Homo sapiens: one gene and its partner. The protein of the gene in region 1 purifies or fractionates together with the protein of each later gene. This does not show direct contact. Each region holds a gene or a part of one and is shown in the gene's direction. Other genes may lie near its edges.

Region 1 (7,527 bases):
GTAAAGCTCTGTGCTCAGGTCAGCGTGGAACAAAAATAAATACAAAACTTGGTTTCTGTTTACATCATCTCTCTTTCTACTCCACACATCCTCCCTACCCCCACTCCAATGAACAAACATACTGAACTATTTGCAGTTCCACAAGAGTGACTTGCTTTACAGTTTTGGTATTAAGAGGTTGATCCAGAACTAGTGGGATACTGAGCAAAATCCAAACTTGATTTGACTTTATTACTAGTAGATTAATGTTTCATTTCTTTCTTTTTGCTTGGAATTATAAAGCATTGGAATGAGGAGAATTATTTGTTTTTATCCAACACTGAACTGCATTTTCTTTTTGAGCAAGTCATTTGAGACCACAACTTACTTTATTTATTTATTTATTTTTGAGACGCAGTCTTGCTCTGTCACCCAGGCTGGAGTACAGTGGCGGGATCTCGGCTCACTGCAATCTCCGCCCCCCGGGTTCACGCCATTCTCCTGCCTCAGCCTCCTGAGTAGCTGGGACTACAGGCGTCCGCCACCACGCCCGGCTAATTTCTTGTATTTTTAGTAGAGACAGGGTTTCACTGTGTTAGCCAGGGTGGTCTCGATCTCCTGACCTCGTGATCTGCCTGCCTTGGCCTCCCAAAGTGCTGGGATTACAGGCATGAGCCACCGTGCCTGGCCACTTTATGTTTTTTATCAGGTAATTCCATTCACTGATAATCTGGTAATCACTAATGGATTCATACACTGTGTTAATATGGTCAGATTTTAACATATTAACAGTAGCCACATTATTAAAAAGTCAAAAAATAACATGCTGGTGAGGTTGCAGAGAAAAGAGAACACTAATATGCTGTTGGTGGGAGTGTAAATTGGTTCAACTGTTGTGAAAAGCAGTGTGGCAATTTCTCAAAGAGTTGAAAACAGAACTACCATTCAACCCAGCAATCCTATTGCTAGGTATATACCCAAAGGAATATAAATCATTCTACCATAAAGACACATGCATGTGTATGCTCACTGAAGTATCCCTCACAATAGCCAAGACTTGGAATTAACCTAAATGCCCATTAGTGGTAGACTGGATAAAGAAAATGTGGTATATATATACCTTGGAATACTATGCAGCCATAAAAAGAATGAGATCATGTCCTTTGCAGGAACTTGGATGGAGCTGGAGGCCATTATTCTTAGCAAACTAATTCAGGAATAGAAAACCAAAGGCTGCATGTTCTCACTTATAAGTGGGAGCAAAATGATGAGAACACAGGGACACAAGGGAGGGAACAACACACACTAGGGCCCACCTGAGGGTGGATGGTGGGAGGAGGGAGAGGATCAGAAAAAAATAACTACTGGGTACTAGGCTAAGTACCTGAGTCATGAGATAATCTGTACAAAACCCCAGTGACATGAGTTTACCTATATAACAAACCTGCATATGTACTCCTGAACCTAAAATAAAAGTTTAAAAACAACAACAGCAACAAAAACCAGCATCTTGCTTTTTATTTCTTTAAAACATTTACCAGGTGTATTCATTGGAGCATCATTTTATTCACAATGTGTTATGAATTTTCTCCCAAACTGTTTTCCACATCTTGACTTTCATTCTCAACTGTGATTTCCTTAAATATTTTGGCACTGAGCCACATAACTTGTCTTTGGATTTTTTCAGTTGCCTGTATGTTTTTTTCTGTCCATAAGTTTATTGTCTTTATCTGAAAAATCCTCATAGAAAATTGTTTGGTTTAGCTCTCAGCAGCCCGCTCCTGAGCTCTGAGGAAGCTTGCCTTCTTTTGAGCTACCCAATCTTTCTTCTGAGCAAGGGACATTTTGGGTCGGTTCCACTTCTTCTTTTTAACTTCTTTCTTGGGCTTCTTTTCACAGACTGGACTCTCTCGTATAGCAGCATGAGCTTTCTTACACATCTCTTCCATCATGTCTGGAGTTACACTGTTCTTCATGTATTGAGAGAACTGTTTCTTGTAACCATCTTCATCTTCTTCCATTAAGTAGCACATGTAATCTGCAACATTGTGGCCCATGATGTGCTTCCTGTGTACTTCTGCATTAAATTTCTTGCTTTCAGAATCATAACCAGGGAATCATTTAGTACTGTGAGGGACAGACAAGCCCCCATGCACAGCTCCCTTCAGAGTGCCAAAAACTTTACTGCCAGTAGTAGTTCTGGCAAGGCCTGCATCCTAATTGCAGGTAAAGGCACCTGGCTGACCATCAATGCTTACCACATTGTAGTCATCGCCAGTTGCCTCCACTTGGCCTTCATAGATCTTGTCCATGTCAAACCTATTGAGAAGCCTGCGGTCCAGCAGCAGGCCAGTACAATACGCTGCAGCATAATTTGTCAGGTCAACCTTCACACCATATTTTGGCAGTTCGTGTACATATGCTGTGCAGACTATCATATCCCCCTCTGTACGGGCATAAGCAATCTGACAAATGATACTCTGTTTGTTCCACGAACTATCATCCTGTATTTGGGTATGTTGTATTCATTTTTATCCTGTATCACCAAGTGTTTCTGAGCATAGTAATCAGTTTTACCCTCTCGTCGTCTTCTAAATTTCACTTGATATCTCTTAAAGTAGGCCTTATTCTTAATAACTTTTACAAACCCCATCCTGCAGAACAGAGACCCACGTCTGCGGCTAGACAGAGAACTCACGTGTATTTTTTTTTCTTTTCGCATTACCTTATTCAAGCTTTCTGTCATTATATTTTCTGCCATTCATAGAAGCTTTTGAGATCCATTTTGTACAGCGTTTCATCAACTATTACTACTTCTACTATTATAATTACTATGATTACTTTTACTGCTATTATGACTTCCACAGTATTACAATTCAGTTGCTGAGTTCTAGTGTAAAAAACAGCTTCATTAGTGAGACAAGTTCCTGATCATGGCTGAGTTCTGAATGATTCTATTTGCTTGTGTGATTTGTCTGCACATTAGTCAGTGGTATACATTAATGACAGTTATTTTCTTAGTAACTGCTTTTACAGTGATATAATGTAAGAATTTCCATAGTACATAATATTTTGTAGTAAGTCCAATAGTAAACTGAGAATGTCCAATTTTAATGGATTCTGCAAACGAAATGATCCAAAGAGCACCCCTCCCCCATTGACTGCAAATATATACGTATTTATATTTTATTGTTTACACATTTGTGTAAATGAAGACAGGAGATTTGCATTTTAAAGAGCCCAAAGAACTGTATGACTTCGAGAAAATCACCTTACTCCTCTTTGTCTCATTGGGTTACAATGAAATCGAGCAAGTTAGAACAATGCCTGGTACACAGTAAGCACTCAAAAGTGTTAGCTATTAAGTAATGAAGCAATTAATGTGTTTAGTCAAATATTTGTTGTTTGGAATCTACGTTTGCTGTTGCTGAAGGCATCATTCCATAGGAAAGAGAATGTTTCTCATTCTTGTCAAATAAATGCAGTTATGGTATATTCTTCCGAATGTCAATAACATCTTGAGGGTTTGGAGGGCCACAGTAATGACAGCTGTACAACTAAGGAAAACTTTTTTATTTTTAAATTTTTAAATGAGTAAACAGAGGTTCAGAGAAGCCAAATAATTAAGGCGGGACCAGTAGATTTCTCAAGAACTCTTGGTTAATCTTAAACATGTTAGCAGTTTCTCGTTGGCTCAGTCGAAAAACAAAAGAATAGCCCACTCAGTGTTTCTCTGCCCCAGGATCCTGTGGTGAAGTCTTGTTAAAAATGAAAATTTCCAGAACCCTCTAGGGACTGATTCTCTGAAGGGTTAACCAGCATCTCACATGCTTCTTATATAACTTTAATTCGTAGAACCACGACACTTTCAGTAATGCAGGGAGAGAGTATCCTCAGAGAGTCAAACTGGAGCAAACCTCGGCCACCTTTCAGGGCAGGCTGTCCGGGTAACTGAGATGTCACACTTGATGCTTTGCCTGGCCATCAAGCAACTCCCAACAATCTGCCCCCTTAAGATCCTAAAACCTTCCCTCTGCCATTACTCCACAGTTGTGATTGGCAAATATTGCTGTTTTCCTCAACAAGAGGAAAATAACAGAGATTTTTGCACGCTCGTGATCGTGGAACTCAAACCTGGGCCTGTTCCACCTTAAAGGGCCTAGGCATGCCTAGTGCTTGGGTCTTGCAGAGTTTGGGCACCACCATATTTGGAGCGTGCCTACTTTGGGGCGGGAACCTCCTTGGGAGTGATTAGGTCAGCGCTGGGGGAGGTGACCTTGTTTGGTTTCTGGCACCCGAGAACAGTGGTGCACTGTTTCCGCTGCCCTCGTTTGTCTAATTGGCCCAGACGCTCCACCAGCGCGAAGCTTCCCGGGAGCTCCTCGCTGGCCACCCCCGCGGCCCGCAGCCCGGCAGAGGCGGGAAAGCAGCGCGCCTGCGCCGTGGGAACCGGGGCTGGAGGCGAAAAGCGGGGAGCGGAGGGGGGCCGCTGGAGCCGAGTAGCGTACAGAGCGGCGTGTGACGCGGGGACGCCGCGTGCTCCCAACGTCGCCCCGGTTTGACGCACACGGCACCAAACTGTGAGTTTCAGGGGTTATTTGGTCAGATTCGCTGGGACCCGAGTGGGTTTCGGGCCTCTGGGCTGTGGCAGCGGCGGGACTGAGGGTGGCGGAAGAACTTGGGGGACCCGGCCTCCGGCTCTCGGGCCCGGGGAGCTACGCCCTAGGCTGGGTCCCAGCCATCCAAAAGGACGCATTTTGCCGCACAGGCTAAGATGGCGGCGGCGGCCGAGGAGGCGGAGTTGGTGCTACACAAGGAGCCCGGGCCCCGGGTTCGGGGAGGCGGCGGCCGCGGCGGTCGCTGGGGGCCACGGAGCCTGAGGTGAGCGGCGGCCGCCGCCGCGGGGCGGGACTCGGCGGGGGGATGGGGGGGGGGCTTTCCGCTGCGGCGTCGGAGGATCCGGTAGCGGACACAAAGGGGCTGAGCTGGGCACTAGACTTGGGGGTTTTGTTTAGTCACATGAAGCCGAGCAGCCAGTGAGCAGTAGGGGGAAGGGGCCGAGATCAGGCGGCTTGGGGAGCCTGGCGGTCGCCATTGCAATGCACTGAGTAACGGGGCGGGCCGAGAGCAGTCACCAACCCCTCTCGTTGAGGCTGCTCGGTTGTGGCCAGAAACGCTGGCTCTGGCATTAACTGTCTACACCCCTCCCCTTACTTGGGACAGGACCGCATAGCCCTCCCCTCCCCCCGTCCTGCAAGATCTTATGCGGCTAGGTGCCTGGGAAGTAACAGCAAGAGGTAAATCGCTCGAAGTGTTTGGGTTGCCAGGGGCTTGGTGGGTGTCCAGCTAAAGCTTTTTGCCTCTCCAGGTCTGATTCTCTGGCCTTTGTGTCCCTGGGAAGTTACTCTGCCAGAGGAAAGCAGGTGTGCTCCACTTCTCCCGTGAACCTGAAGATGAGTTGTCCCAGACTCTTCTCAGTGATTGGAAACTTAGGTGGTGGAGCTAAAGGTTACTTGTTACGAGACTTCTACAGACAACTCTTGTTGGGATCCATCTATGGTTTAGCAACATTAGTGGAAAAGTTTTCTTGAATATTGACTTTGAATATAAAAACGTTTATATTTAGACTTCAGATTTTGTGTGATCATCAAACTCAACGAGGGGATAAACATAATTGGGGGCGAATGATGGTCTTGTCTTGTTAATAATTTCAACAGAAGTATCACAACACCGCCGACTATCCTGTCCAGTCCTAATTCCACGCTTGTTGCATCTGGATGGTAGATTTGTTTTAATTGTGTATTCCCTCCCTGCAGTAGTTTGCTTTAGTTGTAAACATTTTTTGGTCCCATGAGAAGGAAAACATTTCAAAAAATAGACAACTAAAGTTTCTCAAAGAAAGGAAACCTGGCTGTTTGCCTTCAGTTGCATGTGTAAGTATCTAGGGAACTTGATGGCAGTAATATTGCATTTTGGTAGGCTTGCTAAGAAAAACCTCGTTTTTATAATAAGGCTATAATCTAGCTTAGACATTTTAATTGGTGAAGCATAAAGCTTGATTAGTATTAATGCAGTGGTATGTATTGCTTTTAAAAGTCTTACAATTTCTAACAAATTAAAGTTATACTGCAATTATATCATACTTTGTGTTGGTATTAACTCATGAAGTACAAAATTTTGAAACACCTAATGTTTTGTGTTGGCAATTAACAGAATTCCTTGGTTGGAGGGATATTTAAACACATTAGATCACTGTGTAGATCTCTGTGTTCAAACTGAAATTTGAATTTTTCAACATTAGTTAACTTTCATTTCCTTGTTCTTTTCAGATATATATTTTCTCTTTTTTTAGCTTCTAATACAGAACAGTCTTGTATTAATGAATAGGAGATGCATTAACATTAGCAAATGTATTCCTGGATCATAAAGTTTTACAGTGGAAGCAATATCAAAGAACAACTGCTCTTACCCTCCTCTTTTACAATATATTGAGGACCAGAGATGATTAAGTTAGTGGCATAATGGAAAATTGCCTTTCAGCCTCTACCCATTGCTGTTTGTATTTGTCATATTGCTGGGATGAGAAGGTGAATATCTACAACTAATGGTTAAAAAAACAAGGGAATGTTATTGAGAATACTTGTTAATTAAATATTGTTAGGTTCATGAGAACTTCTGTGACAATAAGTTAAAAACTTTCATATTGGCCTGGCACGGTGGCTCACGCCTGTAATCCCAGCACTTTGGGAGGCTGAGGCGAGCAGATCACGAGGTCAAGAGATCGAGACCATCCTGGCTAACATGGTGAAACCCCGTCTCTACTAAAAATGTAAAAATTTCCTGGGCGTGGTGGTGCCTATAGTCCCACCTACTCGGGAGGCTGAGGCAGGAGAATCACTTGAACCCGGAAGGCAGAGGTTGCAGAGAGCTGAGATCGTGGCACTGCACTCCAGTCTGGTGACACAGCAAGACTACATCTCAAAACAAAAAAACAAAAAAACTTTCATATTCTGTGGTTAACTTGGTTTTTAAAGTGACTTTCAGTGAAACAAAATCAGGTACAAAATACAGAAATATCAGATAGTTTCAGAGCAATGTTGCTTTTGAATTTTAAGGTTTTCCAAATGCAGTCTTGACCCAGAAATTGAAAAATTAAAAAACAACAACCAGGGACTTGATAAATTTCTTTGAAAGTTTGAAATAACTGCTGTTATTGCCAGTTATTATGTAGGAAAAGAAATGAGATCAATGCTGAAAATAATGGTGTCTTTCATTTTGTAATAGTGTTTTGGTTGGATAAACGAATGTGCCACTCAGAATGTTCCCTTTCTTTAAAACAACTTTTTAAGACTACTACTTCTACTGAGTGGTACCTCTAAGGTCTGTTAGGAAATTGAACAAGTAGTGACAGTCATTTATGGTGGAACCCTATAGTGATTTTTAACTTCTTTGAATGTCAGATTTAGCAAAAAGTTAAATTGTTTTAAGGTTTTAAAAGTTTTTATGGGTCATATAAGGTGCTTTTAAATTACTGATTTTTGTTAGTTG
Region 2 (7,023 bases), on another chromosome or scaffold:
GCTTCAGGCACCCAGAGATGCCCTGCTGCCCCTTTACGAACATGGGCCAAGAGCTTCCACTTTTGGGAGACTTTCTTTGGACTTCACACCTTGCATGTCCTCCCCATCTTCAAACATCCTTTTTTTGGTTCTGCTACATCTGTTTATCTCTGGCTTTCTGCAAGAAAATGCTGTTCTTACGGCTGTGTGCCCCTCCTCGAGGCTCACCTGGGTCGCCAAACCACATCTGCTGCGCACTGCTGGGCACTGAGGCAGCTCCACCTGCCTGATGCTGTGCCCTGAGGTGCTGTCGTCTGTCCCTGTCCCTATCCGCCCTTCAGAGTAGGGGCCTTCTGGGTCCTTCTTTAGGCCTTCTCTTTGCGGGCAGCCTCAGCTTTCCTGGGCCTAGGTGGGTTGGAGGCAGCCAAGTGACCTCTGTCTGGCTTCAGCTTCTTCTCTGTGGGGCGAGAGCACCACGGGAAGCATCGTTCCTCCTTCTTAACGATGCCTGGGGCCAAGACTGGACCCCACCCCGACCCATGGCTCACTCTGCAGACCGCCCGATGTGGGATGCGGTGCCAGTTTAGTAGTACTTTATTTTTCTAAATATTAACCCCAATTAAAACAAAAATTTTTTTTTGTCCTCCCATTTTTAGGGTAATTTTATGGAGTGTCAGCCCGAGAGCAGCATCTCTCACCGTTTCCACAAAGACTGTGCCTCTCGAGTCAATAACGCCAGCTATTGTCCCCACTGTGGGGAGGAGAGCTCCAAGGCCAAAGAGGTGACGATAGCTAAAGCAGACACCACCTCGACCGTGACACCAGTCCCCGGGCAGGAGAAGGGCTCGGCCCTGGAGGGCAGGGCCGACACCACAACGGGCAGGTACCTGGCACAGGCTCTGGCTGGGCTCTCCAGTCGTCCACCTGAAAAAGTTTCAGTTGTTAACTCAACGTTATTGCTTCCTGCTGTTTTTTCCAGAAGTCTCTGAGCTGATGCTGATGCTTATGGTGATTTCTGACATTTAAGACTCTGAAATTCATTTATTGCCATTTGTGCATACGTTGCTCTCTTTCGGTTTGGTTATGTAGATCCATTTGCCTGTTTTGAACCGGTTTTCACAGCACCCCCATTGATGTAGCTCTGTGGTGTTTCTGTTGATGGCACAGTCCTGTTGGTACACAAGCGATAGACGAGTGGTGGCTGCTGCAGTCTGTGACCGAGTTCTGTGGTATTAAGGTTTGAAGGCCTTAGCTGAAGACAAAAAAGTCTAAAATAATTAGAAGTGTTCATATTAGACAGATACAATTGTCTTCCTGAAAGAGTCCAGTAGAAACAGCTGAAAAATTTTTAGAGCTCAAAAGAGTCAGTAAGAGGATCTGATAAGAAGAGATAGAAGCCACTTGCCTTCTTCCTTAGCAGCAGTTCCCTGCCTGAGAATAAAATAACAAAAGAGACCCTTTCAAAACAGCAACAAAACTTGTTACTACCCAGCAGAACAAAGAACTTAAATGTGACACTAATATAAAGAAAATAAACTTCCTTGAAGATTATTTAAAAGAGACTCAAATTGTGGACATGTTAAGGTGATTCCTTCCTATTAACCTGTAAATTTAATGCACTTTGAATCAAAATTCCAGTGGGATTTCCTTTTGTTGGGGTGGGCAGTGGACTTGATAGATTCAGCTTGAAGCTCATTCATGAGAGTGTATTTGAACACGCTGCCCAGAAGTCTAGGAAAAGTTGCCCTAGTTTTCTCAGGAAATTTGGTTCTGAATCCTGAACCGTTAAATCCAGGGACTAAGCGGACAGTAAGCAAATCCGCAGCTCTCACTTAGAAAACAGCGCTCTCGGGCAGTCAGAGTCGGAACAGGCCATGTTTCGTGTTTTCATAAACCTTTCCCCGATTTCCTCCCCTGAAGTGCTGCCGGGCCACCACTCTCGGAGGACGACAAGCTGCAGGGTGCAGCCTCCCACGTGCCCGAGGGCTTTGATCCAACGGGACCTGCTGGGCTTGGGAGGCCAACTCCCGGCCTTTCCCAGGGACCAGGGAAGGAAACCTTGGAGAGCGCTCTCATCGCCCTCGACTCGGAAAAGTAAGACCTGACATGTGATTTCAGAGATGTCTCAGAGCCTGTTTTAATCTGCACCCCGCGTTTTTCCCCATGGTGTCACTTTAGCACTTCTCAGCTTTTTGATTAATGCTGTTCGTTAGAATAATTCGTATATTTTCACACTATTTTGGGAAATTATTGTAAATTACTGTCCTCTGCATTATAGTAAGAGCAACCTCTGACACCTTTGAAGTCCTAAGTGAGGAGGCAGGTCTTGGTGAGCTTTGACAAACATTTCCTGGTTGCTGTTGGCCCTGAGCTGCCCTTAGGTCATGAGAGCAGACACTGCTTCTGCTGCCTTGACTCCGTTTCCCTCCCAGGCCACACCCCATCTGTGCAATGCGAGGGTTGGGCCAAGGGGCCCTCCAGGCTTTCCCGACAGCTCACAAAAACCCACCCCTCCTCGTCCTCCTCTCAGCATTGCCCCACCAGGGAGGCAGACCAGACTGTGGCAGTGAGGCTTGCGGTGCCTCCTCCCTGGATCTCCCCTCTGTCTGCCTCCAGCCTCGCCTCTGAGCCTGCTCTTGAAGCGACGGTACCATCTGCTGACGCCAACAGGCCCTGCTCGCTGACCAGACCCCAGACTGTTCCTGACCCACAGGCTCTGCTCGCTGACCAGACCCCAGACTGTTCCTGACCCCACTCTCTCCCCCATCCCTTGGTGATTGTGTTAGTCTGCTTTTGTGTCAATATAAAGAAATGCCCAGGGCTGGATGATTTATATAGAAAAGAGGCTTAATTGGCTCACGGTTCTCCAGACTGTACAGGAAGCATGGTGCTGGCATCTGCTCCTTGGGAGGCCTCAGGAAGCTACAGTCATGGTGGAAGGCAAAGCAGGAGCAGTAGCAAGAGACAGAGAAGGGGGAGGCTCCCAGACTCTTAAGCGACCAGATCTTGTGGGAACTGACTGAGCGGGAACTCACTCATCACCAGGGGGAGGGATGACACTAAGCCATTCATGAGGGATCTGCCTCCAGGATCCAGTCACCTTCTACCAGGTCTCACCTCCAACACTGGAGGTCACATTTCAACGTGAGTTTTGGGAGGGACAGAGGTCCACACCATATCAGTTATCAGCTTAGTCATCGAGTTAAGGTTTCAGAGCAAAAGTGCCAGTGTTCCCAGCTCTCACCGCCCAGGACATCTTCTGTAGTGCGAGCTGTGCCCTCACTCGTGACCACGCTGTGTGGGCTCATCCTGGCTGGGGCTGGTCCCGGCTGTGCTGAGCGTAGATGAGGTTCCCCTGCATCCTGCGCTGGTTCTGTCGTCGTGTTGTGTAAAAGCCTCACAGTGCGTAGTGTTCTCCTGCGGTGACTGGGAACGCAGTTTCTTGTCCGCAGTTTTTACCATGAGATATCTCGACTGGTGGGTTTGCACTTGAGCTTGTGGGGCTGGTGGGCAGACGTCTGCCGGGCCTTCCAGCCTTCAGCTTCATGTGTGGGACGCGGAGCCCCATGAGCTTGAGGGGCTGGTGGGGAGATGTCCGCCGGGCCTTCCAGCCTTCAGCTTCATGTGTGGGATGCAGAGCCCCATGCTGACTGTTGTCTTGTGCTTCCCACAGACCCAAGAAGCTTCGCTTCCACCCAAAGCAGCTGTACTTCTCCGCCAGGCAAGGGGAGCTTCAGAAGGTGCTCCTCATGCTGGGTAAGTGCCTTCCTGCGGCCCGGGCACATGCAGCCGGCCCTGTGGCACTGAAAGAAGCCGAGAGCAGTTGTTACTCCTTCCTCAGGAGGCTGGTCTCGTTTTGGTTTTCTGTTTCTGTGTCTCCGAGTTCTCTGATGAGTGAGAATAGGTTGCCCACTGGTGTTGAGGCTTTTTATGGTGTTCATATCCAGTTACGCAAGATATTAGAACTATTCTCTACGAAGTTCTAATTTTTAAAAAGGAATTGGTATGTGATTATTAAATCAAGCAGAAATAGAGATTAAGGAAAAGCAAAACTAGTGAGTTGTGGCCCTGAGATGTGTGGTGATGACGCTGAGATGTGTGGTGATGACGCTGAGATGTATGGTGATGATGCTGAGATGTGATGACGCTGGGATGTGTGGTGATGACGCTGAGATGTGTGGTGATGACGCTGAGATGTGTGGTGATGACGGCATCACTGAGATGTGTGGTGATGACGCTGAGATGTGTGGTGATGACGCTGAGATGTGATGACGCTGGGATGTGTGGTGATGACGCTGGGATGTGTGGTGATGATGCTGGGATGTGTGGTGATGACGCTGAGATGTGTGGTGATGACGGCATCACTGAGATGTGTGGTGATGACGCTGAGACGTGTGGTGATGACGCTGAGACGTGTGATGACGCTGGGATGTGTGGTGATGACGCTGGGATGTGTGGTGATGACGCTGAGATGTGTGGTGATGACGGCATCACTGAGATGTGTGGTGATGACGCTGAGACGTGTGGTGATGACGCTGAGACGTGTGGTGATGACGCTGGGATGTGTGGTGATGACGCTGAGATGTGTGGTGATGGCATCACTGAGATGTGTGGTGATGACGCTGGGATGTGTGGTGATGACGCTGGGATGTGTGGTGATGACGCTGAGATGTGTGGTGATGACGGCATCTCACTGAGATGTGTGGTGATGACGCCGAGACGTGTGGTGATGACGCCGAGACGTGTGGTGATGACGCCGGTATGTGTGGTGATGACACTGGGATGTGTGGTGATGACGCTGGGATGTGTGGTGATGACGCTGAGATGTGTGGTGATGACGGCATCTCACTGAGATGTGTGGTGATGACGCCGAGACGTGTGGTGATGACGCCGAGACGTGTGGTGATGACGCCGGGATGTGTGGTGATGACGCTGGGATGTGTGGTGATGACGCTGAGATGTGTGGTGATGACGGCATCACTGAGATGTGTGGTGATGACGCTGAGACGTGTGGTGATGACGCTGGGATGTGTGGTGATGACGCCGGGATGTGTGGTGATGACGCCGAGACGTGTGGTGATGACGCCGAGACGTGTGGTGATGACGCCGGGATGTGTGGTGATGACGCTGGGATGTGTGGTGATGACGCTGAGATGTGTGGTGATGACGGCATCACTGAGACGTGTGGTGATGACGCTGAGACGTGTGGTGATGACGCTGGGACGTGTGGTGACGACGCTGAGACGTGTGGTGACGACGCTGGGACGTGTGGTGACGACGCTGGGACGTGTGGTGACGACGCTGGGACGTGTGGTGATGACGCTGAGATGTGTGGTGATGACGGCATCACTGAGATGTGTGGTGATGACGCTGAGACGTGTGGTGATGACGCTGAGACGTGTGGTGATGACGCTGGGATGTGTGGTGATGACGCTGGGATGTGTGGTGATGATGCTGAGATGTGTGGTGATGACGCTGGGATATGCGGTGATGATGCTGAGATGTGTGGTCATGACGCTGGAATGTGTGGTGATGACGGCAGTCGATGTTTCACCTGTGCTGATCGCAGCAGCTGTGGTGTGGACAAAGTAGGCTTCAGCTATAGGTATTTTATAACAGGCAAACCGATTGCATTAGATTTCTAATACGCAAAAGCATACTTGTTAGAGAGCCTTCCCAGTGATAATTTGGTCTCTGAGCTCATAGCTTTAGGCTTGATTTCTCTGACGTTCATCGTCTCTGGGTTGAAAAGGATGATTAAGAAGCCCTTTACTGGACAGTACGTCAAGTAAAAAGAAGTGAAACTATTTGCTTTTAAAGAAAGGTTTATTTATGTTGACCAGCAGTTTTAATCATTTTGTCATGGACTTCACAGGACACCTGTGAAGGTCACCTCACTGCTCCGTTGCTCACCGTCCTCTCAGACCTCCTGGGAATTGACCGATGCTCAGGCCTCTGTCCCCGGCCTTGCTTGCTCCCCTAGGGTGTGTCTGCCCTGGTCAGCCGCCTCACTGGGCCTGGGGCGGCCATGGCCAGGCCACACAGAAACACAGAAGGAACCTCAGAGTTAGAGCAGGGTGGTAAAGGGAAGAGCGTGCCTTGCCGAGTTAGTTCTGACAGAGGGACCTGCCTGTTCAATTCCGCAGGAGACTAGCACACTCAAGTCTCAAGTCCAGAGGATGGTGCTGTGGGCGGGTTCCGGCGTGGCTCGAGGTGGCTGTTTATGTGGAGGATGGTCATTTGTGAGTGCTTGCCAGCCATCGTGACAGTCCTGAGCTGGAGTCTGTGGCTACATCTGAAATCATTAATAAAACTGTGTTTGTTCACAGTGGACGGAATTGACCCCAACTTCAAAATGGAGCACCAGAATAAGCGCTCTCCACTGCACGCCGCGGCAGAGGCTGGACACGTGGACATCTGCCACATGCTGGTTCAGGTGCGGCGGCACGGCGCCCTCCTAGGGCTCTTCACCTGCTCTCTTTTATTTTTACCAAAGTAAAATCATACCACGTTCGCGGTTCTTCCAGTGTAAGAGTTCCGTAGTGCTGTGAATCGGGCACAGAGTCAGCTTTTCTGCCCCCGAGTCCTGCAGGTGGATCAGTGCTTCCCGCTGTTTCTTCCGGCATTTACCACGGCCTTTGAGAAGAGCATGCCGCCATTTGGCTGTTTCTTGATTTGCTTTCTTTGGTTTTGGTTTTGGTTCTTCACACTCATGACGTCCCTCTGGGGGAGCCAAGCACTCGCAGAGGCACGGACGCCCCTCCCCCAGCCCCGTTGACTGGCTCCCATTTTGTTTAGATCAGATCGTGTGAGCATTTTCAAGCTGAACCACGTCGTCTACAGGGTATGTTGTGTCTGTCGTTAATCACTGGCTTGTGTTTCTGTTGGTTGAGTTGACTCTGCCACCTGCTAATTTATTCTGAACCATCTGAACGCTGCCCGCTTGTCTCTGGGTTCAGACACACGACGCTGTTTGTCCCCCTGTGACGCCCCTTCCCTGATCCCGGTGTTGGATCCCCTGTTTCTCAAGTGCCAGGTTTGAGT

The links. Proteins that work in one complex are often made in the same cells at the same time.
Region 2: the proteins of ZNF644 (region 1) and EHMT1 purify together in Homo sapiens (affinity purification with mass spectrometry; 2 studies listed by BioGRID and IntAct, with this or other methods). This does not show direct contact.

The regions. Positions count from the first base shown.
Region 1 is NC_000001.11:91,019,022-91,026,548, reverse strand, and holds the start of ZNF644 (zinc finger protein 644), read left to right. Parts: upstream 1-4,513; 5' UTR 4,514-4,559; exon of another isoform or gene 4,560-4,860; intron 4,861-5,065; exon of another isoform or gene 5,066-6,566; intron 6,567-7,527.
Region 2 is NC_000009.12:137,775,983-137,783,005, forward strand, and holds part of EHMT1 (histone-lysine N-methyltransferase EHMT1), read left to right. Parts: intron 1-635; coding exon 636-862; intron 863-1,899; coding exon 1,900-2,073; intron 2,074-3,652; coding exon 3,653-3,735; intron 3,736-6,308; coding exon 6,309-6,415; intron 6,416-7,023. UniProt on the Homo sapiens protein: Histone methyltransferase that specifically mono- and dimethylates 'Lys-9' of histone H3 (H3K9me1 and H3K9me2, respectively) in euchromatin.